7 linked regions of the Homo sapiens genome follow. The protein of the gene in region 2 purifies or fractionates together with the protein of the main gene of each other region. This does not show direct contact. Each region holds a gene or a part of one and is shown on either strand. Other genes may lie near its edges. The genes, in order: RBBP6, TRPC4AP, VTI1A, KLC1, KDM4D, RNMT and SMCHD1.

The links.
Region 1: the proteins of TRPC4AP (region 2) and RBBP6 purify together in Homo sapiens (co-immunoprecipitation; 3 studies listed by BioGRID and IntAct, with this or other methods). This does not show direct contact.
Region 3: the proteins of TRPC4AP (region 2) and VTI1A purify together in Homo sapiens (co-immunoprecipitation; 2 studies listed by BioGRID and IntAct, with this or other methods). This does not show direct contact.
Region 4: the proteins of TRPC4AP (region 2) and KLC1 purify together in Homo sapiens (affinity purification with mass spectrometry; 2 studies listed by BioGRID and IntAct, with this or other methods). This does not show direct contact.
Region 5: the proteins of TRPC4AP (region 2) and KDM4D purify together in Homo sapiens (affinity purification with mass spectrometry; 2 studies listed by BioGRID and IntAct, with this or other methods). This does not show direct contact.
Region 6: the proteins of TRPC4AP (region 2) and RNMT purify together in Homo sapiens (affinity purification with mass spectrometry; 2 studies listed by BioGRID and IntAct, with this or other methods). This does not show direct contact.
Region 7: the proteins of TRPC4AP (region 2) and SMCHD1 purify together in Homo sapiens (co-immunoprecipitation; 3 studies listed by BioGRID and IntAct, with this or other methods). This does not show direct contact.

Annotation. Positions count from the first base shown.
Region 1 is NC_000016.10:24,567,066-24,570,565, forward strand, and holds part of RBBP6 (E3 ubiquitin-protein ligase RBBP6), read left to right. Parts: intron 1-77; coding exon 78-440; intron 441-726; coding exon 727-828; intron 829-1,679; coding exon 1,680-3,434; intron 3,435-3,500. UniProt on the Homo sapiens protein: E3 ubiquitin-protein ligase which promotes ubiquitination of YBX1, leading to its degradation by the proteasome.
Region 2 is NC_000020.11:35,086,308-35,089,807, reverse strand, and holds part of TRPC4AP (short transient receptor potential channel 4-associated protein), read left to right. Parts: intron 1-3,500. UniProt on the Homo sapiens protein: Substrate-recognition component of a DCX (DDB1-CUL4-X-box) E3 ubiquitin-protein ligase complex required for cell cycle control.
Region 3 is NC_000010.11:112,816,730-112,819,244, forward strand, and holds the end of VTI1A (vesicle transport through interaction with t-SNAREs homolog 1A), read left to right. Parts: 3' UTR 1-2,015; downstream 2,016-2,515. UniProt on the Homo sapiens protein: V-SNARE that mediates vesicle transport pathways through interactions with t-SNAREs on the target membrane. These interactions are proposed to mediate aspects of the specificity of vesicle trafficking and to promote fusion of the lipid bilayers.
Region 4 is NC_000014.9:103,698,628-103,702,044, forward strand, and holds the end of KLC1 (kinesin light chain 1), read left to right. Parts: exon of another isoform or gene 1-170; coding exon of another isoform or gene 171-390; intron 391-505; coding exon of another isoform or gene 506-552; intron 553-736; coding exon of another isoform or gene 737-949; intron 950-2,027; coding exon 2,028-2,099; coding exon of another isoform or gene 2,100-2,100; intron 2,101-2,573; coding exon of another isoform or gene 2,574-2,576; 3' UTR 2,577-2,917; downstream 2,918-3,417. Other genes in the region: DNA repair protein XRCC3, read right to left, coding at 171-390, 506-552, 737-949. UniProt on the Homo sapiens protein: Kinesin is a microtubule-associated force-producing protein that may play a role in organelle transport. The light chain may function in coupling of cargo to the heavy chain or in the modulation of its ATPase activity.
Region 5 is NC_000011.10:94,980,209-94,983,708, forward strand, and holds part of KDM4D (lysine-specific demethylase 4D), read left to right. Parts: intron 1-3,500. UniProt on the Homo sapiens protein: Histone demethylase that specifically demethylates 'Lys-9' of histone H3, thereby playing a central role in histone code. Does not demethylate histone H3 'Lys-4', H3 'Lys-27', H3 'Lys-36' nor H4 'Lys-20'.
Region 6 is NC_000018.10:13,754,173-13,757,672, forward strand, and holds part of RNMT (mRNA cap guanine-N(7) methyltransferase), read left to right. Parts: intron 1-3,041; coding exon of another isoform or gene 3,042-3,187; exon of another isoform or gene 3,188-3,500. UniProt on the Homo sapiens protein: Catalytic subunit of the mRNA-capping methyltransferase RNMT:RAMAC complex that methylates the N7 position of the added guanosine to the 5'-cap structure of mRNAs. Binds RNA containing 5'-terminal GpppC.
Region 7 is NC_000018.10:2,658,726-2,662,225, reverse strand, and holds part of SMCHD1 (structural maintenance of chromosomes flexible hinge domain-containing protein 1), read right to left. Parts: intron 1-3,500. UniProt on the Homo sapiens protein: Non-canonical member of the structural maintenance of chromosomes (SMC) protein family that plays a key role in epigenetic silencing by regulating chromatin architecture.

The sequences.
Region 1 (3,500 bases), on a different chromosome or scaffold from region 2:
TGGATAGAAGAGATAAGCTTACTTGTCTCAGATGACTTTAGTTTGAAGAAGTAATATCTTGGAATTTATTTTTCCAGAAGTATAAACCGTGGGCGACACCACAGCGAAAGATCACAGAGGACTCAAGGCCCGTCACTACCAGCAACTCCAGTCTTTGTACCTGTTCCACCACCTCCTTTGTATCCGCCTCCTCCCCATACACTTCCTCTCCCTCCGGGTGTTCCTCCTCCACAGTTTTCTCCTCAGTTTCCTCCTGGCCAGCCACCACCCGCTGGGTATAGTGTCCCTCCTCCAGGGTTTCCTCCAGCTCCTGCCAATTTATCAACACCTTGGGTATCATCAGGAGTGCAGACAGCTCATTCAAATACCATCCCAACAACACAAGCACCACCTTTGTCCAGGGAAGAATTCTATAGAGAGCAGCGACGACTAAAAGAAGAGTATGTATTCTAATTTGAAATTATTATACACTTTTTTCATTTTCTGATAATAACATTAAATAGGTGTCTGGAAACGTTTTCCAGTGTTTCCAGTTAGTATGAGAAATTCACCTAAAATTTAAACCAAAGCCATACAAGCAACTTCTCAGGGATTCCTAGTTTATAGTTTTAAAGTGGAAAACTAATGGCAATTTCATTCATTTCATTCATGATCTAATTACATTTGTCTTGTTAGTTTTCTTAAATGGTTTTTGTTAACTTTCACTCTTTAACTTTATTTTACTAGGGAAAAGAAAAAGTCCAAGCTAGATGAGTTTACAAATGATTTTGCTAAGGAATTGATGGAATACAAAAAGATTCAAAAGGAGCGTAGGCGCTCATTTTCCAGGTTAGTGTTTTGCAAGCCTTCACAACAGAATTACAAACGGGACTTTGAATATCCAGGGATTAGCTATGGATATAAAGAACATTGCACTTAGGAATTTTTCTGATTCGGTCTAGGTGTATAGAAGTGAAGATGTAGCTTATTTCCCAATATCTGTTCATTGAAATAATGTCTCAGTGTAAATTTTATTGTGTAGAACTAACAGTTGTGGGGATTAAATTGCCCTTGTCCCTTAAAGTTATTCATAGTATCAAATAATTGGGAAATGTTTTTGGAAGGAAAGAAATAGGGGAATAGCCAAAAAACAGTTCCCAGGACCCTTTTACCATAAGGCTACAGCTTCTTGCTGGAACATTAACCTGCGTAATTATGAAGTAGTAGTAGAATACAGATCGCTTTATTGATAGAAAAAGTGAATTATAAAAATTCCCTGGAAGTTTGTTTAAAAGACTTTATTTTTTAGCCTTACACTTGAAATGTGGTTTCTTTTAAAACTAGGCTGTTGGCCAGTATAGGACAAAAAACAGACTCCTACTTCAATATTCAGATAGGAAGTGAAATTTAAAATTAATTGACATTTTGTTTAATGTTAGTTAGCTCATATAACTCACGGTACATTAATGCACTTCACTCTAATTGTTAAGACTTCACTTTTGTTTTGTAACAAGTGATTGCTCCGATTTGTGTACTTTATTCCATTCCAGTAGAGGTCACTGTGCCTCTTTAATCATCTAAGATGAAATTTGATATAAAGATAGATGAAACCGTGAGGAAAGAATGCTAGAATCTGAGAGTCTGTGTTTTATTTTGTATGTATTTCTCAACTATCAACTATTGTTTTGTTTTGTTTTTAGGTCTAAATCTCCCTATAGTGGTTCTTCGTATTCAAGAAGTTCATATACTTATTCTAAATCAAGATCTGGTTCAACACGTTCACGCTCTTATTCTCGATCATTCAGCCGCTCACATTCTCGTTCCTATTCACGGTCACCTCCATACCCCAGAAGAGGCAGAGGCAAGAGCCGCAATTACCGTTCACGGTCTAGATCTCATGGATATCATCGATCTAGGTCAAGGTCACCCCCTTACAGACGCTATCATTCACGATCAAGATCTCCTCAAGCGTTTAGGGGACAGTCTCCTAATAAACGTAATGTACCTCAAGGGGAAACAGAACGTGAATATTTTAATAGATACAGAGAAGTTCCACCACCATATGACATGAAAGCATATTATGGGAGAAGTGTTGACTTTAGAGACCCATTTGAAAAAGAACGCTACCGAGAATGGGAGAGAAAATATAGAGAGTGGTATGAAAAATATTATAAAGGTTATGCTGCTGGAGCACAGCCTAGACCCTCAGCAAATAGAGAGAACTTTTCTCCAGAGAGATTTTTGCCACTTAACATCAGGAATTCTCCCTTCACAAGAGGCCGCAGAGAAGACTATGTTGGTGGGCAAAGTCATAGAAGTCGAAACATAGGTAGCAACTATCCAGAAAAGCTTTCAGCAAGAGATGGTCACAATCAGAAGGATAATACAAAGTCAAAAGAGAAGGAGAGTGAAAACGCTCCAGGAGATGGTAAAGGAAATAAGCATAAGAAACACAGAAAAAGAAGAAAAGGGGAGGAAAGTGAGGGTTTTCTGAACCCAGAGTTATTAGAGACTTCTAGGAAATCAAGAGAACCTACAGGTGTTGAAGAAAATAAAACAGACTCATTGTTTGTTCTCCCAAGTAGAGATGATGCCACACCTGTTAGAGATGAACCAATGGATGCAGAATCAATCACTTTTAAATCAGTGTCTGAAAAAGACAAGAGAGAAAGGGATAAACCAAAAGCAAAGGGTGATAAAACCAAACGGAAGAATGATGGATCTGCTGTGTCCAAAAAAGAAAATATTGTAAAACCTGCTAAAGGACCCCAAGAAAAAGTAGATGGAGAACGTGAGAGATCTCCTCGATCTGAACCTCCAATTAAAAAAGCCAAAGAGGAGACTCCGAAGACTGACAATACTAAATCATCATCTTCCTCTCAGAAGGATGAAAAAATCACTGGAACCCCCAGAAAAGCTCACTCTAAATCAGCAAAAGAACACCAAGAAACAAAACCAGTCAAAGAGGAAAAAGTGAAGAAGGACTATTCCAAAGATGTCAAATCAGAAAAGCTAACAACTAAGGAAGAAAAGGCCAAGAAGCCTAATGAGAAAAACAAACCACTTGATAATAAGGGAGAAAAAAGAAAAAGAAAAACTGAAGAAAAAGGCGTAGATAAAGATTTTGAGTCTTCTTCAATGAAAATCTCGAAACTAGAAGTGACTGAAATAGTGAAACCATCACCAAAGCGCAAAATGGAACCTGATACTGAAAAAATGGATAGGACCCCTGAAAAGGACAAAATTTCTTTAAGTGCGCCAGCCAAAAAAATCAAACTCAACAGAGAAACTGGGAAGAAAATTGGAAGTACAGAAAATATATCAAACACAAAAGAACCCTCTGAAAAATTGGAGTCAACATCTAGCAAAGTTAAACAAGAAAAAGTCAAAGGAAAGGTCAGACGAAAAGTGACTGGAACTGAAGGATCCAGCTCAACTCTGGTGGATTACACCAGGTAGCTGAGTGTAGGGGGTGGGTGTGGAACTTTGTTGGGAGAAGGATTTTCTTCAGTTTTATCCAT
Region 2 (3,500 bases):
GTGGCGCAATCTCGGTTCACTGCATCCTCCGTCTCCCGGATTCAAGCAATTCTGCCTCAGCCTCCTGAGTAGCTGGGATTACAGTCGTGTGCCACCACACCTGGCTACTTTTTGTATTTTTAGTAGAGATGGGGTTTCACCATGTCGGTCAGGCTGGTCTCCAACTCCTGACGTCATGATCCCCCTGCCTTGTCCTCCCAAAGTGCTGGGATTACAGGTGTGAGCCACTGCGCCTAGCCAAAATTTTTTCATTGTAGTAAACAAATATATAATATAGGCCAGGTACATTGGCTCATGTGTGTAATCCCAGCACTTTGGGAGACCAAGATGGGATGATCACCTGAGCCAGTTTGAGTCAAGCCTGGGCAGTGTGGTGGAGCCCCAGCTCTACTACAAAAAAAAAAAAAAAAAACATTAACCAGGTGTGGAAATGCATGCCTGTAGTCCCAGCTGCTCAGGAACCCGAGGTGGGAAGATCGCTTGAGCCTGGCAAGTCAAGGCTGCAGTGAGCCATGATCACACCATTACACTGCAGCCTGGGCAACAGAATGAGACCCTGCCTCAAACTATATACATATATAAATATATATATGTAAACATAAAATTTACCATCTTAACCATTTATAAGTGTATAGGTCAGGCCCAGTGTGGTGGCTTACACCTGTAATCCCAACACTTTGGGAAGCTGAGGTGAGCGGATTGTTTGAGCCCAGGAGTTTGAGACCAGCCTGGGCAACATGGTGAAACCCTGTATCTTAAAAAAAAAAGGTGTATAGTTAAGTAATGTGAAGTATATTCCCATTGTTGTGAAACAGATTTCCAGAACTTTTTCATCTTGCAAATCTGAAACTACCATTGAACAACTTCCCATTTCTCCCTCCCAGTCCTTGGTAACCATTCTTCTCCTTTCTGTTTTTGTGAGTTTGACTACTTTAGATAACCCCAGTATAGTAATACAGTATTTGTCTTTTTGTGACTGGCTTATTTTACTTAACATAATGTCCTCAAGGATCATCTGTGGTATAGCATGTGATGGAATTTCCTTGGAAAAAAAAATCAGATTTTAAAGTAAGGTGGACCTGAATTGAATCCTAGCAGGGTGACCAAGATTAAGTTATTTAACCTCTCTTAACTTCAGTTTCCTTATTTCTAAAGAGGTGATGATAACATCTATCCCATAAAGTTGTTAGGAGGATTAAGTGAAATAATATGTTTTAAAAGCGTAGCCAGTGTGGCATATAGGAATAGTTGTTTAGTAAATAGTTGCTCTCAGCTAGTAGTTAATTAGACTGGGCTTCCTGAAGAGACTGTGTCTTATTTTTCATTGTATCTGCAGAGCCTGAAACCTTGCCAGCCATTTGATATTCAGGAAATTGCTTAAATTGAAATACTGTGTCCTCAGTCTAATTTCTGTCTGTACTTGCCAAGCAATCTCATGGCTTTAAAGAGTTCCAGAGTCAGATTACCTAGGTTTGAAACCTAGCTCTGGTATTTACTTACTATGTGTCTTTAGGCAAGTTATTTAATCTGTTTATGCCTCAGTTTATTTATTTGTAAAGTAAGTATCATAGGACCTGACCTTCCAAGGTTGTGGTGAGGACCAAGTGAGTTGTACATATAAAGCACTTAAAATAGTGACTGAAACATACTTTCTCAGCTATAAGTACATAGCTTACTGCTATAAAGATTAGCTTGTATTGTTATTAATAACTGCTCTATACGCTGACGGATCCTAAGTTTCTGTTTCCATTCGTGTTTCTCCTTTTAGCTCTGGATGGGTAGGTATATCCAATTGCCTTCTAGCATTTCCACTTTGATGTCTAATGGGCATCTCAAACTTAGTATGTCGAAAGCCAAAATCCTCTCCCTTTTCCATCAGACCTGATCTTCTCCATCTCCCTAAATGGGGCATAAGGGAAGCCTGAGTCATGACTACTGGCCACATAATTTGTAATGGGTCAATTCTACTTGGATTTTAGTTTGCTTTATTTTCTTCCCTTCGTTTTGTTCTGCCCTCTGTCAAGGCAATAAAATATGCTGGGGTGATACTTTGGAGTTTACTGAGCCTTTTCATATTCATCAGCACATTTGATGCTTAATGCAAATCAGATCTTATAAATCCTTTGCTTAAAACTCTCCAGCCTCATCTCATTGCAGTTGATAGAATCAATTCTGGATTCCTTACCATGGGCGTACAAGGCCCCAAATGATCAGTACGAGTTGAAGGAAAGGATAGACTGAGTAAACGCTGGGCTCTAGGATAGTGCAGCTCACATTACAGGTCATGACCCGCCATCCCTGGATGCCCTTCAGTTTGGCAATCTGGTGACAGACTGGGTTGTGGGATGCTGTTATATTTCCCACATGGCAGTCGTTGCTTCCTTTATGATTATTGGCATATCTAAATGCCCCTGAGTGTTCCTTACTTTATATTTTTTCTTTAGATTCACTGACTTTTTTTTTTTTTTTGAGATGGAGTCTCGCTCTGTTGCCCAGGCTGGAGGGCAATGGTGCAATCTCAGCTCACTGCAAGCTCCGCCTCCCAGGTTCATGCCATTCTCCTGCCTCAGCCTCCCGAGTAGCTGGGACTACAGGTGCCCGCCACCACGCCTGGCTAATTTTTTTTTTTTTTTTGTATTTTTAGTAGAGACGGGGTTTCACCGTGTTAGCCAGGATGGTCTCGATCTCCTGACCTCATGATCCGCCCACCTCGGCCTCCCAAGGTGCTGGGATTACAGGTGTGAGCCACTGCGCCTGGCTGACTTCTTTTTTTTGTGAGATGGAGTCTCGTGCTGTTGCCCAGGCTGGAGTGCAGTGCACAGTCTCGGCTCACTGCAACCTCCGCTTCCCGGGTTCAAGCGATTCCCCTGCCTCAGCCTCCTGAGTAGCTGGGACTATAGGCATGTGCCACCATGCCCGGCTACTTTTTGTATTTTTAGTAAAGACAGGGTTTCACCATGCTGGCTAGGCTGGTCTCAAACTCTTGATCTCTTGATCCACCCACCTCAGCCTCCCAAAGTGCTGGGATTACAGATGTGAGTCGCCGTGCCCAGCCAGATTCACTAACTTTTAAAAAAAATTTCATTAGGCACTACTTGTTTTAGCCTCATTCTAACCATTAGTATTTATGAAACCTAGGCATTTAAGTCAAACAAATCTTACCTGGCTTTTCAAAGGTAATTTGATACTGAAAAACTCCTGATTAGGATAAAGTCTTATTCATATATATATACACACACACACACACACACACACACACACACACACACACACACACACACATATATACACACACACACATATATATACACATATATATATACACACACATACACACACACACACACACACACACACACACACACACACACACACATATGCCATTCATTTCAATGGGAAGTTTTCGTATTCACAAGCCCTTAAATTTGCTCCTAATTTTACTGAATCATACCCCATTAAAGGACACAAAAGTATTCAGTGGTTAACATGTATTGTCAGAA
Region 3 (2,515 bases), on a different chromosome or scaffold from region 2:
TGAAAAGCAAACCTGTTCTCTTCATCAAAAATGCTAACCACCTGTGCCCGTGGATCAATATCACCTGGATGTAGTGCTTGATATTTTTCCCAACTCAGAAGAAAACCATTATGGTTTAGAGAGGAAATGCAGAATGGCAGAATCCACCAGAGAAATTGCACTTATCGAAACAGGCCAAGGCCTGCATGTGTTCGGATAAATCATTTAGTATTGTGTAAATAAAGCTGCAGCCTTTACTTCGGAGGGATGGTGTGGGATTTTGGCCGAGGGAAGCAGGACAGAGAAGGAGCAGGAAGCTATGCTAATTTTCCTGTCAGCTTAAGGGATCCGTCTCAGCAAGAATCTTGTATTCTGATAACGGAATGCTGTACGTGCTGACCACATCTAAGAACCATTAAAAAGCAAGGAAACAAACAAACAACCCTTTTCTCATTCCGACACACGAATAGTCATCGAGTATTACACCAGCCCCTCTGGTGGCTTCCTTCAAAACTGTTGATCTTAGCTAAAGTGTATAACCAGTTACCAGCTGCACTTCGCACGGCCATCCCGTCCACAATGCAGCAGACTCTTCCCAAGGCCACCTAGCAAGCAAGGTTGATCGGATCATCTAAACTGGCCGCCTCCTGAATATTTCACTGAATCCTGGCGTTCATGTTGAAGCAGACAAAATGAGAAAGGAGGAGGGCATTGCTCACCTCTCAATAGCTTTTTTCGTTCAAGTTCTATGTCTTTATCAGCTCTTGCCTGTGATTTTACCCCAATTCAACCTTGGGAGTGGGAAGAATATGAACAGATAACCCTTGGCCTAACAGCTCCATCAAACCTCCTTGAGAGCAACTACCTAGGCCAGGCTAGTGAGTGCTTTGTGAGGAAGCTGGTCAGAAGGTTCCCTCAACTCCTTCCTGGTCCTCCTGGACACTGCAGAAAAGACTTAGGGGATCCCCAGCAGAGGCCAATTGCTCTCCTTCCTTCCCTGCCCCACCAGGAAAGGAATAACGTCCACAGACTTGAAGCAGATAGTGAAGTAGATCTGTGAGAGGTTCTAGGTACTTAGTGTGTAGACTTTGACGAATATTTCTCAAGTTGGGAGCCCTTGTTAAAAATGATGTTTAAGGGAGTGGTTGGGGGGAAGATGAAGGCATGGAGGAGGAAGAAGAGAAGGAAGCCCTTGCCATATAAAATTCATGCAGACTAAACAGTTTCCCTGACAGAATAAATAAAGTGGATGCTACCCCACTCCAGAATCAAAAGCAATTTAATTAAAGTCTCTTAAGTTGTAAAGAGTTTTAAATGATCCGTGTTGAAGGCGAATGCCTGCAAATGCAGTGGGTCTGACGTCAGCTGCCGGGCCTGGGCTGGGAGGCCATTTGCTATTCTGTTTAAGGCAGGCTGGATTGTCTTATTTTGGAACCAGCTTGGTGGGGGGTTTGCTTTGCTACTGCTTCTGAGCCCTGAGCTTCAAAGGCTGAAATTAATGGTGAACAAAATTGTGCGGCTCTGGCCATCCCATGCGGGGCAAGCCCATTGAGGGTTATCATTAAGTAAAGAAATAAAGAGGGGGAAAAAAGCCTGCCTGTTCCAAAAACCTCATCAGATAATGACCTCAGTGATTGGGTTTTCATTACCAAACAGCATCCAGAGATTATCAACCCATAGAAGAAGGGAGGGGAAAAAAAAGAAAGAAAGGAAAAGCAACTGTCTTTCTCTCCCTCTCTTTCTCCTTTTTTTTTGCACATCTTTTCTTTAAAACTGTCAGATCATTTCAGTATTTCAAATCCGAGGAAAACAGCCTGCCTGCTGCTGTATTTGAAGTTGTAATGGTGTCAAAAAGTCACGACTGACTGACAGCCGTCAGTCCCAGAGGGGCTCATTAAATCATAAAAACTTGACAAGGAAATAATTGCGCATTGCCAGCAACTTGGCGCCTGTTTAGACGTTTTTATTTTCTTTCATTATTAGTCCCCACCATTACGTTCATTAACAAATTGCATTAAACAACTGTTAAGGGCTAATGATTTGTTTATCGCTTTTTTTTATTATTATTATTTAAACATTAGCTGTGTCATGTGGTACCCCAAGCAGCCTCTTGCCATCATCTGACTGAATATTTTTCCACTCCGAGCTCTGGGTACTGTTGGAATATGAAATAGATTATTCATTACTCTCCTCTTTGCCACTGATTTGGTTTCATGTAGCGTCTTCCACAGAGAAAGATGAAAACTTGTCAAAAATAGGTTATATCTTATTCGAAGGGGCAACAATAGCAGCAGGTACAGGCACACTTTAATATTTAATTAAGGTTGATGTTAACCCCTTTAAATGACTTTAGCTGTAAGTTGTATTCAAATGCAGAAGAGAAAAATAATTGTTCTTAATTTGCAACCTGTTCAGCAGGCGTTCTTCATGGAGTGAGCTGGAAATTTAGGGCAGAATTTTTAAATAATGAAATTTCCCATCGTAAATATTAATAGCAGTTTGTCTACGTAGTGGAGAATTAACTAGGAGTGATGAT
Region 4 (3,417 bases), on a different chromosome or scaffold from region 2:
GTCAGTCTGTGGCCACCATCTTCGGATGAGAAAGTGGAGCCGCTGCCCTGGAAGAGCTGTGTCTGAACCAGGCTCCCAGCTGTGCCACGGCCCAGGCAGACGCGTTTTAAAGGCCCGAGCCCCGTGTGTCGGGGCTTCTCAGGCAGGGCTGTTGTGCAGCCGCCACCGTGTCAGTGGGACTGGGTCCCAGGTGTCCCTCGCACCCCTTCGGCACTGATCGTGTAGGAACAGGAGGAGGGGGGCAGGTGGGGGGCAGAGAGCACCCGCAGGGTCCGGGCTGGGCAGCCGAGGGCAGCCTCTTCCTCGCGGAGCCGGTCAGCCAGCAGTCTCACCAGGAGCTGGTTAGCCCAGGTTATGCCAAGGGCTGGGGAAACACGTTCGTCCCAGAACCTGAGAAACAGGAAGCAGGCAAGCTGGCGCTCAGGCTTGGTGGCCCCGCCCACTTCGGCCCAGCTGTGCCCCTGGCACCTGCACAGAGGTGCACACACCACATGGCTGCACTCACCCCAGCGGCCCGTGTGCTGCGCCCTGCTCCTCCATGGCCTCTGTCACCTGGAAGAGCACAGTCCAGGTCAGCTGCAACGGCTGAGGGTCTTCTCGATGGTTAGGCACAGGCTGCTACCCGCAGGAGCCGGAGGCCACCTCACTGCCACCCGCCCCACCTCCAGACCGGCTCTGCTTCCGCATCCTGGCTAAAAATACGAGCTCAGGGGTGCAACCCTGCCTTGGTGCTCACCTGGTTGATGCACAGCACAGGGCTCTGGAAGGCACTGCTCAGCTCACGCAGCGTGGCCCCCAGGGACTGCAGATGCCTGGCCCTGGGGGCGGAGGCCTGGCTGTCAAATTCACAGCGGAATGGGGCTGCCACCGAGTCGATGACCACCAGGCGAGCCATGCCCCGAGACAGCAGTACGGGGACCTTCTTATTCACACACTCCAACAAGGTGTCCTGTGGGGACAGCTGTCATTGTCTATGCTGGTCAGCAAGTCCCCGCCCCAGGTGACCAGACCCCGTTTGGACTGTCACTCGACCGTCTGAAAACCTTCCTACCCACCTGGGGCTCACAGTGCCCATACTCTGTAGTCCCCATACTCTGAGCCCAATTCTGTATTTTTCTCAAAGAGGCCCCAACTATAGAAGCTTCAGGCTCACACAACTGGTTCCCTTGGCCCCATGTCCTTCCTCTGGCCCCCCCAGGCAGTCACCCCTTGGCTGTGCCAACACCGTCCTCTGTAGAGGTGTCCTTTGCGCAGGCTCCTGAGTCCTTGCGGGGGTCTGCTCTCCTTCTGCCATGGTTTCACCCTCTCCCCCTCACAGGTCAGCAGCAACCAGCCCCCTCCTTCAGTGGCCCCGCACCAGGTACTCAGACCACCCAAACCTGGCCACAGTGCCACCAAAGCCAGCCCGTGGTGGCCATGACCTCTTCAGACGCTCAGCAAGGCAGGGGCCTGATGCCCTTCAGGCGTTACTCAGGCGAGTCAGGCCTGGCCTGCCTCTGCCAAGGCGTGGGGCACTCTGGGAGACCACCTGGGGGTCAGGATGGGGCTGTAGGTTGAGACACCCTCAAGGCCAGTGCCTCCCGTGCATCCAGGCCTTAGCCCTGTGCTCTGAGCTGGCCTGGCCTGGCCAAGGGGTGGAAACAGCCCTGTGCCCACCAGCTCCCAGGAGAGCTTCCAGGGGAGGACCCCCCCAGTGAAGGCAGGTGTCCTCGGCCTCCCTCTGGGTGCTGCCGTGGCCTGTGGGTGCCAGAGCCATTGGCATGGCTGGCCTGGCCTCTGACCGCACAGCTTGGTGAGCCATGGTGATGGGGGAGGGTGACACAGCTGCTCCTGGCACCAAGCAGTGTAGTTCAGGCCCCACGGGCCTTGCCAGCAGCTCTGGCCAGATGGAGGCTGCTAAGGGGCCCCTAGGCTGTCCCTCAAGTCCAAGGTCTGCAGCCACACGCTGGTGTCACGCCCGGAGCTCTGAAGACGCCTGAGGGCCGCCTGCACGCCCTGAGTGAAACTCGTCTGTGCTTCATCTCCAGGGCGTCTCTGGCCGAGCCTCTTTTTGTGGAAAACGACAGCAGCAGCAGTGGCCTGGAAGACGCCACCGCTAACGTGAGTCCCACGGCCTGCAGCCCCAGGAAGCAGGCAGCTGGGCCAGGGAGGGACTTTGCACATGCAGGGACTGGGGGGAGCTGGGGATGGGCAAGTGGTGACTGCTGCTAGCTGCCAGGCTGGGCCTCCAAGAGGGGCTTGGCTCAGGGTCCCCATCCTCATGCAAGCCCAAGGGCCACAGAGTGGGGGGGTGGGAATGGCACCAGGCTCTGCTTATGCAAGAGAAGGCTCTGTGTCCACACCCCTGGCTTCCCCCGTGCCAGACGCAGGCCTTTGGTGCTCCAGGGAGCAGAGACCAAAGACGCACCAGTCCCCCATGACCCCTCGGCCCCAGGGAGGCTCACAACCAGCAACACCCTCTTCTCTAGGCAGACTTGGGGTGGGGGTTCCCCAGAGAGCTGTTTCCAGAACAGAACTTAGTAACACTGTCAGGTTTTGGCGGCCCAGCCCTGACCTTCTATCTTCTCTTGCAGTGACCCCGACCTGGCCCCGCTCCAGGATGGGACTGCCGAGTGTGGCCCGGAGCTGGCCCGGGACAGCCAGGGCGGCAGGGAGGGCCCCTGGCCGGGAGCCGCAGCGCTCACTCATTTCTCCTGCGTCTGTGTGCATAGGACATGATACTAATAACCACACGGCTGGCGTGACCTTGGGGCTGGGGCTGGGCCTAAGCTGGTGCCCTGGTGCGGCGTGGTCTCTCCCAGGAGACCTGGGGCATGAGCTGGGCCCACGGCTCCCTTCCCATGTGTAACTTCCTCACGTTGTGTGCGATAACGTATTTTATTGTACATTTTTTTAAATTAAAAGTTTATATGCCTTATGCTTTACTTGAAAGTTTTTATAAGACCTCTTAGAAGTGGGGGAAGGCTGGCGGGCGCGGTGGCTCACGCCTGTAATCCCAGCACTTTGGGAGGCCGAGGTGGGCGGATCACCAGGTCAGGAGATCGAGACCATCCTGGCTAACATGGTGAAACCCCGTCTCTATTAAAGATACAAAGAATTAGCTGGGCGTGTTGGTGGGCGCCTGTAGTCCCACCTACTCTGGAGGCTAAGGCAAGAGAATGGCGTGAACCCGGGAGGTGGAGCTTGCAGTGAGCTGAGATTGCACCACTGTACTCCAGCCTGGGCGACAGAGCGAGACTGTCTTAAAAAAAAAAAAGAGAAGTGGGGGAAGGCCCACCCAGGAGCTGCTCTGCCAGGCCACAGCCATGTCTAGGGTGGGCTGGACATGGCAGCCGCTCCCCCTGCACAGGGTGGAATTTCCTTACTTGCCTTTGGTCAGGGGTTTACTCCCAAACGTCCCATCTTTTCTTCTGCGTC
Region 5 (3,500 bases), on a different chromosome or scaffold from region 2:
GAATGTCCCTACTTGGGAAGTCATAATGATATTCTCAGGTATTATCTTCTAAAGGTTTCATAGCTGCACATGAAATTCATTTTTGTGCGTGGCATGCTGGAGAAGGGGCCTTGAAATCCGATGGAGCAGATATTCTTACCTTGTCCCACTTTTATAAGAGTGGCTTTGCTATTCTTGGCCCTTTGGACTTTACTATAAAATTCAGGAGCCAATTGTCAAGTTCCACAAAAATACTTTTGGAATTTTAATTGTGATAATATTTAATTTACAGATTAAGAAAACATTCTTAAAAATGTAATGACATTTTTACAATACTAAGTCTTCAAATCTATTAACAGGTTATATTTTTCCATTTGTTTAGGATGTCTTTAGTTTATATTAATATGCTTCTCTAAGTACATTCATATTGTTGTCTTCATAGAAATTTTGCAAATTTTTGTTAGCATTAGTCTTGTTACTTAATGCTTAATGCTATTATAAATGGCGTCTTCCTTAAATTTTGGTTGTCTCATTGTTGCTGGTGTGTAGAAATATCATTGATTTTTATATGTAGCTATTTTAAATTCAGAGAACTTGCTAAGCTCTCTTATTAATTCAAAGGGTCTATTCAGAGATCTTTCAGATTTTGTCACATGTACAATCATGTCATCTGCCAATAGTGACAGCTTTGTTTCTTCCTTTTCTGTTTTCCTTCTTTTTTCCTTGCCTTCTTATGTTGGTTAGGACTTCCAAGATAATGTTGAATAAAAATGCTGATAGCAAGCATCCTTGTCTTTTTCCTGATCTGCAAGGGAAAACGTATAACTTTCATTATTAAGTATGATTTGGCTGAAGGTTTTGGATAGATGCACTTCATTAAGATTTTTGCCTACTATTTTTAATTTGCTGAAAGAATGATGAATTGATGAATTTTATCAAATACTTTCTCTGCATCTAATGAGATTCTCTTTAGTTTGTTAATATGTGCTATTACACTATTATTTTTTAAAGTTTCATCCTTTCATTACTGGAATAAACCCATCTAGGTCATGATGTATATATTGCTGGAATCAATTTGCTCAGATTTCAGTTAGGATTTTTCCATCTATGTTCATAAGCGAGATTGACCTATTTTCTTTTCTCATAGTATCCTTGTTGGGGATTCGTACCATAAAATGAATTGGGAAGTATTCTTTCTTTTTCTATTCTCTGAGAAAATTTATCTAAGATTGGAATATCTTTCTTGAATGTTGACTAAAATTTCTTGGTGTAGCCATCTGGGCCTCGAGTATATTTTCTGGGAAGAGTTTTACCTACTGCGTCAGTGTCCTTGAGGGTTATGGATATATTTATTGTTCTGTTTATTCTTTTGTCAGTATCACTGTTATATTTTTCTAAAAATGTATTTACTTCATTGAAATGTTAAACTGTATTGGCATAAAGTTGTTTATACTTCTTTGTTGTCTCTTTTATGTCTGCAGCATCTGTAGTGATGACTTCTTTATCTTTGTTGATATTGGTTATTTGTGCCTTCTATTTTTGTTCTTCCTCATTTTCACCAGTCTTTTAAATTTTATTAGACTTTTTTAAAAAAGCCCAACTTTTGGTTTTGTTCATCATATTTTATATTGGCTTTTTATTTCATCAGTTTCTGGTCTCTTATTATTTCTCTTCTTTTTCTTTCTTTGCTGTTACTTTTTTCTGACTTCCTCAGATGGGTGCTTAGCTCATTTAGTTTTTTTAACCTTTTTCCTTTTCTTAAATATTTATTTAAATTTATAAATTTCCCTTTTAATGCTATTTACCTGCATCCTACAAGATTTGAAATGTAGTATTTTCATTTAGTTCAAAATATTTTCTAATTTCCATTTTTTATTTTCTCATTAAAAATTTATTTAGAAATATACTTTTTATTTTATAAATTTGGGAATTTTTTAGTTATCATTTTGATATTACTAACTTCATTGTTTGTGGTCAAATAACATATTCTGACTGTTCTCAACCGTTTGACATTTGTTAAAGCTTGTTTTATGGCCACAGTTATGGTTAATTTTGTAAATTTTTTATAGAACTTGGAAAAATATATATTCTGCAGCTCGGCAGAACTGAATTTTATATGACTATTGCTTTTTAACTGCTTGATCAGTAGGGTCCAGGTTTATGCCTGTCATCCTTGGGTCTCTGTTATTCTCAAAAGTGTCTCAGCTTAGATGGTAAATGATAGGATATAATTAATGTCAAAGTTTAGAGCCACTCTTATTAAAATCTTAGATGAGTATAGAATTTCTACCAACTCAGTCAACATTCAGCATTTTGCTAGAGATCATATCTAGTTACTTAAGACTTCCCTATTTCTAAAAAAAAAAAAAAAAGAGACATGACTATTAAAAAAAGAAGAGATATAATTTTTATGATTTTTTCCTAGAAAATATTATCTACGTGGAAAATTCTAGAATTAATGGCCAAGCTAATAGTACTAATAGGAAATAAGAGGTACAAGGTTTGAAAAGGGATGTAAGATCAATAAATAATAAGAAAACTTAATAGAAAAAAATTTCCATGTACAGTACACTCAAAAAATTATAAAGTTCCTAAGGTTTTATCTAAGAAAACAGATTCATTATCTTTTTGATGCAAATCTGAAGCTTCATTGATATACATGCAACAAGATCTGAATAAATGTATAAATATACCAGTTAATTGGTGGGAATGATCAATGCAGGAGCTATGAAAATACACCTCTAATTTTCCTTTAATTTCAATGCATTCCCAATTTAAATTAACAGTATTTGACAGAACCTGACAGATTTATTCTAAAATGAATACTGAAGTTTTACTCTATAAATATACCCAAGATAATTTTGAAAAAAGTTGAATAAGTACATGGAGACTTGCCTTACCAATTATCCTAAGTATAAAGCTTTAGTAATTAAAACAATCTAACATTGGCATAGAAATGTACAAATAAATAAATGGACCAGATGAAGAGTTTAGAAAGACATCTATCCTTACATTGTAACTTAGCATATGTGAGAAAAGGATTCCAACTGAATGGGGAAAATGGTGGCAAACAACTGGATTTCTTAAAAAAAAAAAAAAGTTCTGTTTCTTACAATAACACACAGTATTCTAAATAGGCAAAACAAATAAAAGTGAAAAGCAAAGAAAACAATGACAAGAAAATATGATCTTTTTGACCCCCAAAGAATACATGGATTACTTAAATAGTACACAAAGGCACAAATCATAATGGAAAAGATCAATAAATTTGACTACATTTAATTTTTTCAAATATCAAAAAAACATAAACAGTAAATGGAGGTGGTGTGCTGAGATAAGTTATTTGCAACAATACAATAGACATAAAATTATCCCAAACATTTAAAGAACTTTTAAAAATCACTAGAAAAAGAAAGCAATTTAACTGGAAAAAATCGGCAAAAGGTATAACTGGTAATTCAGAAAACCGAAACCCACAAAAGAAATAAATCAGTGAAAAATTACTTGACTTCACCAGTAAA
Region 6 (3,500 bases), on a different chromosome or scaffold from region 2:
ACTGATAATTTCAAAAGTCCTGTTTCAAAGTGATCATTAAAACCTGAAAAAAGGCTGGGCACTGTGGCTCACACCAGTACTCTCAGTATTTTGGGATGCCGAGACAGACAGATTCCTCGAGCCCAGGAGTTGAGACCGGTCTGGGCAACATGGCAAATGCTTGTCTCTACCAAAAATACAAAAAAATTAGCCAGTCATGGTGGCATGTGCCTGTAGTCCAGCTACTCAGGAGGCTGAGGTGGGAGGATTCCTTGAGCCTGAGAAGTCAAGGCTGCAGTGAGCTGTGATTACATCACTGCACTCCAGTCTGGGCAACACAGCGAGACTCTCAAAAAAAAATCTGAAAACTTTGAGTTTTTCTGACATTTTAGGTTGTGTTTGTGTTTACACACACACACAAATACGTATATCTCTACATATGTCTAATCCTCCTTTCTTGCACAGCTGTGTAGTGCCAAGAGAAGATACACTGTACACAGGGTCTTCCTCAGCATAAACTTGAGTGAGCATGTGTAAACATTCTCATTGCCTATTTGTTACTAAGTAGCCATCTCCATTTGAAGTGTTTACCTCAGATTTCTACTGGAATTTTTGGCTTATAGAATACTTGCATGTCTTTTTTTTATTTGGCCACTCTGATGTGACAGTGAAGGCATAATAATACTAGAACATTCAATGAAACATCCATGAGCAGGATGTGTTAGAGGTGTGCATGATAGGGGACAAATGTGGTGCAAAGATATTCTGAAGTGAGGTTCCTGTGTTCAGAAGAGAAGCCAGAAGCACAGCAAATCTGTGAAGGCCTGTGGTTCTTCAGCAGTGGGTGTTGAGGAAGTCAGGTTGCAGAGCCTCATTGTTACTGTAGGAATCCCCTTACATGGTTGTTGGTGATGTTGAGGCACAAGTGGTCATTAAGGACAATCCATTTGATAAACATTATTGATTTACGTGAAGTTCTGTGAAAGGTAAAGTAAAATAAAGATGTTAAATCTCTACCTTCTAGAAGTCTACACTGTAATGGAAGGAACAGGCACAAATAAACACTACTAGGCAAATTTTTAAGTGCTAATGATACTGTAGTGGGGCACAAAGGTGAAAGAGAGCTTAATGAAAACTAAACTAATGACATCTGGGATGTAGTAATATTGATATTACTGAGTGTTGAACATGTGCAGGTGCGTGTAACGTTTTTAATCCTTGTAATAACTCACATGTTGTAACTCATTTAATCCTCACAATGACTTTATGAGTAGAGTATTATATCTCCTTTCACAGATGAGAAGACTAACAACTTAGCTAAGATCACAGAGCTAACCTGTGGTTAGCTTACCTAAGTGATCTGTCATTTTAACTATGGTTTCATGGAAGCCTGGCAAAAGGAAAATCTAGTAAGACTTCCTGAGTTGGATAGAGAAGAAGAGGAAAGGAGTCAAGCAAGACCAGTATTTTGAGGCTATTTGTCTTTGAACATTGGTACTATTACTAGAAATCGGACTGGAGGATGTTATACACATACGATCATGCTTGACACACTGGTGAGCATGTGCATAAACTATGGATTTTATTACTTTTTCCCTGCAGTGGAGACTGGTTGCCTGTCTTAGACATCCTGCTGGTCCCAAAGTAGAGTGTAAATTTTGATCACGAGTCATCATGATGGCGGTACTGGCTGTGGCTTAGAACTGTATTTTTATATTATTAAGTGTGGACTTTAGTCATCATGTACAAATGAAAAATTAGATGGCCCCAGACAATTGGAAGAGATGGGCTGGACATGCGAAGAGAGCAGTGGCCAAATTGCACCTCGGGTGTAGCACCCCAGGATTGTTTGGCTGTTTGATGAATTGCTCTGTTCTAAGCTAGAGGGCTTCGTGGGTTGAGCGTATTTTGCATGCCATCACGAGTCTAAAAGGCCCAGGCTACATTTTAGACTTCTACTGGTCTGATCATTAAGCTATCACCAGAGCTGCTGCTCCTCTAGAAGATGGCTTTAAATGAGAAAGGAGAGAATTGCTATTGATTTATTTCTGGAAGTGGAAGTGGTTCACGATTTGATTTTTTTAAATCCCAATTGAAATGCCTGCATAGAAGGCATTTTATACAATAAGTGGGACTTTTTAGGAGTTTCAAGTTAGAAAGAAAGTTGCTATTATGTATTGAAAATCAGACTCTAGCATGTTAGTGGTTTCAAATGACCCTAAATGAGGACAGGACAGGACTGAGGGGTTGTTTGCAATTGCTATGGGTGTGTGGGGGGTGGGATTTGGCAGGGCTGGGCTGCACAAAGGTCACACAGAGTGGGGGACAGCATGAGTGATACTGGCCAGCTGTGAGTGCTGACATGCTGTGCACGCTGATGTGTTGCAAGTGCTGGGGACTGCTTTGTCTCCTTACCTTCTGGCAAGAACCACAGAATTGATGAACACCCTGCCTGTTTTCTGTCCTATCGCTGTGCTACTAGCCACATTTCATTTCAACTAAAAGAAATTGGAAACCGGTAAATAAGGTGACCAAAGTAGTATTTTGGAAAAACTGCTATGGTGTTCCTGTACAAGTTGGGTTGGAAGAGCAAGAAGCTGGAGTCTTGGGAGGCCATCAGGCAGTTAGCTGTGTTCATCTACCCTCCCTTCAAAAGAAGTCATCTCAAGGAGTGAGGCCTCCAGCTTAGATGGACTTGATCTTGACTCACTGTTGAGTATCCTAGCACATGCCCCAAACATCCTTGTGATGTTTGCAGGATTTGTCACCTTTGCAGGTATTTTCTTGCCCTAAAATCTATTGGTATTTTATTAGAAGATATACAGGCATACCTTGGAGATACTGCAAGTTCAGTTCTAGACCACCACAATAAAGCAAGTCACTCAGATTTTTTGGTTTCCCAGTGCATATAAAAGTTATGTTTACTGTAGTCTGTTAAGTGTGTAGTAGTGTTGTGTCTGAAAACCATGTACATACCTTAATTTAAAAATACTTCATTGGTAAAAAAATGCTGATGATCATCTGAACCTTCAGTGAATCTGAATCTTTTCTGCTTGGTGAAGGGTCTTTCCTCCATGGCGGAAATACTCTTGATGGATGGTGGTTGCCGAAGATTGGTGTGGCTGTGGCAGTTAAGACAATGAAGTTTGCCTCATTGATTGACCATTCTTTCACAGAAGATTTCTCTGTAGCATGCAGTGCTGTTTGATAGCGTTTTACCCACTGTAGAACTTATTTCTAAATTGGAGTCACTCCTCTGAAACCCTACTGGTCTTTATCAACTAAGTTTTTGTAATATTAATATTCGAAATCCTTGTCATTTCAACAATGTTCCCAATGTGTTTACCAGAAGTAGATTCTATCTCAAGCTCATCCATAAGAAGCAGCTCTTCATTTGTTCAAGTTTGATCATGAGATTGCAGCAATTCAGTCACATCTGCAGGCTCCACTTCTAATTCTGGTTCTCTTGTTGTTGCCATCCCGTCTGCAGCTACTTCCTCCACTGATGTGTTGAACCCCTT
Region 7 (3,500 bases), on a different chromosome or scaffold from region 2:
TCTTTCTTTCTTTCTTTCTTTCTTTATTTATTTATTTATTTATTTTATTTTTTTTTTTTTGAGACGGAGTCTCGCTCTGTCGCCCAGGCCGGACTGCGGACTGCAGTGGCGCAATCTCGGCTCACTGCAAGCTCCGCTTCCCGGGTTCACGCCATTCTCCTGCCTCAGCCTCCCGAGTAGCTGGGACTACAGGCGCCTGCCACCGCGCCCGGCTAATTTTTTGTATTTTTTTAGTAGAGACGGGGGTTTCACCTTGTTAGCCAGGATGGTCTCGATCTCCTGACCTCATGATCCACCCGCCTCGGCCTCCCAAAGTGCTGGGATTACAGGCGTGAGCCACCGCGCCCGGCCTTTCTTTATTTTTTACAGATTTTTTTGAGTACTCTTCTACGATAACTGCATATAATAGTTCATTTAGCCTTCACTAACTACATAGAAGACTCCCCCTATTTCCTAGCTGTCAAATTATCTACGGATAGGAATGCTAGCACCTTATTCTCTTCTTCAAACAATGGCAACCGGGTTATCGCTCCTGACCATCTAATTGTATCCAGTATTGCCTGTATTTTCCTGCACTGGAGCAAATAGTTCATTTTCTTTTGATTTTTAACCCATATTAAAAACCCACAGATGTTTAATCCATATTAAAAACCCAGATGTTTAATCCATATTAAAAACCCACAGATGTTTAATCCATATTAAAAACCCACAGATGTTTTTTAATCCATATTAAAAACCCACAGATTTCTAATCCATATTAAAAACCCACAGATTTCTAATCCATATTAAAAACCCACAGATTTCTAATCCATATTAAAAACCCATAGATTTTTAATCTATAAATCTACTATTATTCAATTAAGACACACAAACTATCTTTTTTTTTTTTTAAGTTCCTGGATACATGTGCAGAACATGCAGGTTTGTTACATAGATATACATGTGCCATGGTGGTTTGCCACACCTATCAACCTGTCATCTAGGATTTAAGCCCCACATGCATTAGGTATTTGTCCTAATTCTCTCCCTCTCCTTGCCTCTTACCCTACAACAGGTCCCTGTGTGTGATGTTCCCCGCCCTATGTTCATGTGTTCTCATTGTTCAACTCCCACTTATGAGTGAGAACATGCAGTGTTTGGTTTTCTGTTCCTGTGTTAGTTTGCTGAGAATGATGGCTTCCAGCTTCATCCACGTCCCTGCAAAGGACATGATCTCATTCTTTTTTATGGCTGCATAGTATTCCATGGTGTATATGTGCCACATTATCTTTATCCAGTTGATCATCAATAGGCATTTGTGTTGGTCCCACGTCTTTACTATTGTAAATAGTGCTGCAATAAACTTTAAAATTAATCCATATTAAAAATCCATGGTTTTTAATCCACATCAAAAATCCATATGAAATATCCATGGATTTTTCATCCATATTAAATATCCATGGATTTTCCAGGGGGCATGGTGGCGCATGCCTGTAATCCCAGCACTTTTGGAGGCCGAGGTGGGTAGATCGATCACCTGAGGTCAGGAGTTCCAGACCACCCTGGCCAACATGGTAAAATCCCATCTCTACTAAAAATACAAAAATTAGCCGGGCATGACGGCTGGTGCCTGTAATCCCAGCTATTTGGAAGGCTGAAGCAGGAGAATCGCTGGAACTTGGGAGGCGGAGGTTGCAGTGAGCCAAGATTGCGCCACTGCACTCCAGCCTGGGTGACAAGAGTGAAACTCCCATCAAAAAAAAAAAAAAAAAAACCATGGATTTTTAATCTATAAATTTATTATTATTTAATTAAGACACATAAACTATCTTTTTGTTTTCCCTGCTTCATCTATAAAAATTATTTCTTGAATTCACAATTTTTCTAAGTATTTTATTTTATTATTGTTTGTTTGTTTTTTGAGACAAGAGTCTCGCTCTGCCACCCAGGCTAGAGTGCAGCGGTGCGTTCTCAGCTCGCTGCAACTTCCGACTCCCGGGTTCAAGTAATTCTCCCTGCCTCAGCCTCTCGAGTAGCTGGGATTACAGGCACCCGCCACCAGATCCAGCTAATATTTGTATTTTTAGTAGAGACGGGGTTTCACCATGTTGGCCAAGCTGATCTCTAACTCCTGACCTCAGGTGATCCGCCCGCCTTGGCCTCCCGAAGTGTTGGGATTACAGGTGTAAGCCACTATGCCGTCCCCAACTTCTCTTAAATATTTAAGGACTAACTGACTTGCAGTGCATAAAATGATTACCTACCAAAATGATCAGTTAATTTTATTTTTAAAATTATTTTTTCACTATCTCTGAACAACAGGTAATTTTCATCCATGGATTAGTCAGAAAGCACACAGCTTAATTAGCACTGCTCTGAAACTCTGCAAACTAGTCAGCTTTTAATGTGGCTCCATTATATTTCGTTACCTTACTATGGCACTTGCTAAGCCATAGTTTTCTGCTTTTTTTTTTTTTTTTTTTCAAAATCTCAAGTTTATTGTAGAAATTGATGAGCACATCTTATATTAAAATACAAAACACCTAGAATAGCCGCACAACAAAAAACATTGGAGCCACACAAAGGAAAATGTAGACAATTTCTTCAAATTGGTGGTGGGGGGATATGCACACATGGGACTTAACATCTGGGCATATTTTAGAACTAACCAAATGAGTCATCTTCTAATCGTTGATTCTGCAAGGCCACAAGGGCTCAGGTGAGTCAACAGCTGCTTATCAGAGGTCTAAGGGCTTCTTGCAGATTTGTCCTTTCCATTTCTTCCCTCTCCTTTTCCATGAGGTGAACTTTATTCAAATAACAATTTAGAGCTGGGCGTGGTGGCTCATGCCTGTATTCCCAGCACTTTGGGAGGCCAAGGCAGGTGGACCACCTGAGGTCAGGAGTTCAAGATCAGCCTGGCCAACATGGCAAAACCCCATCTCTACTAAAAGTATTAAAATTAGCCAGGCGTGGTGGCAGGCACCTGTAATCCCAGCTACTCAAGAGGCCGAGGCAGGAGAATCACTTGAACCTGGGTGGCAGAGGTTGCAGTAAGCCAAGATGGCACCACTGCACTCCAGCCCGGGCAACAGAGCGAGACTCCGTCTCAAAAAAAATAAATAAATAAGTAACAGTTTAGGATCACCCATAATACTGCCTGACACTACAAACATTTATTGGTTTAATTTACATTTTAACAAAAACTTTAGTATATTATTTTGTCTCTTCCCCTAAGGACAAAAGTGATGGTTCTAATAAATAGTGTGGAGTAGTGTAAAAAATATATATATGTGTGTGTATATATATGTGTATATATGTGTATATATGTATATATGCGTATACACGTATATATGTGTATATATGTGTGTATGTGTGTATATATATGTATATATACATATACATATATATACACACACACATATATATGTATATGTATACATAAGCTTTGGAATCAAATTGACCTAAATTCCAATCCCAGTTTCACTGCTTGTTGACCATGTAATCTCAGATTATTAATT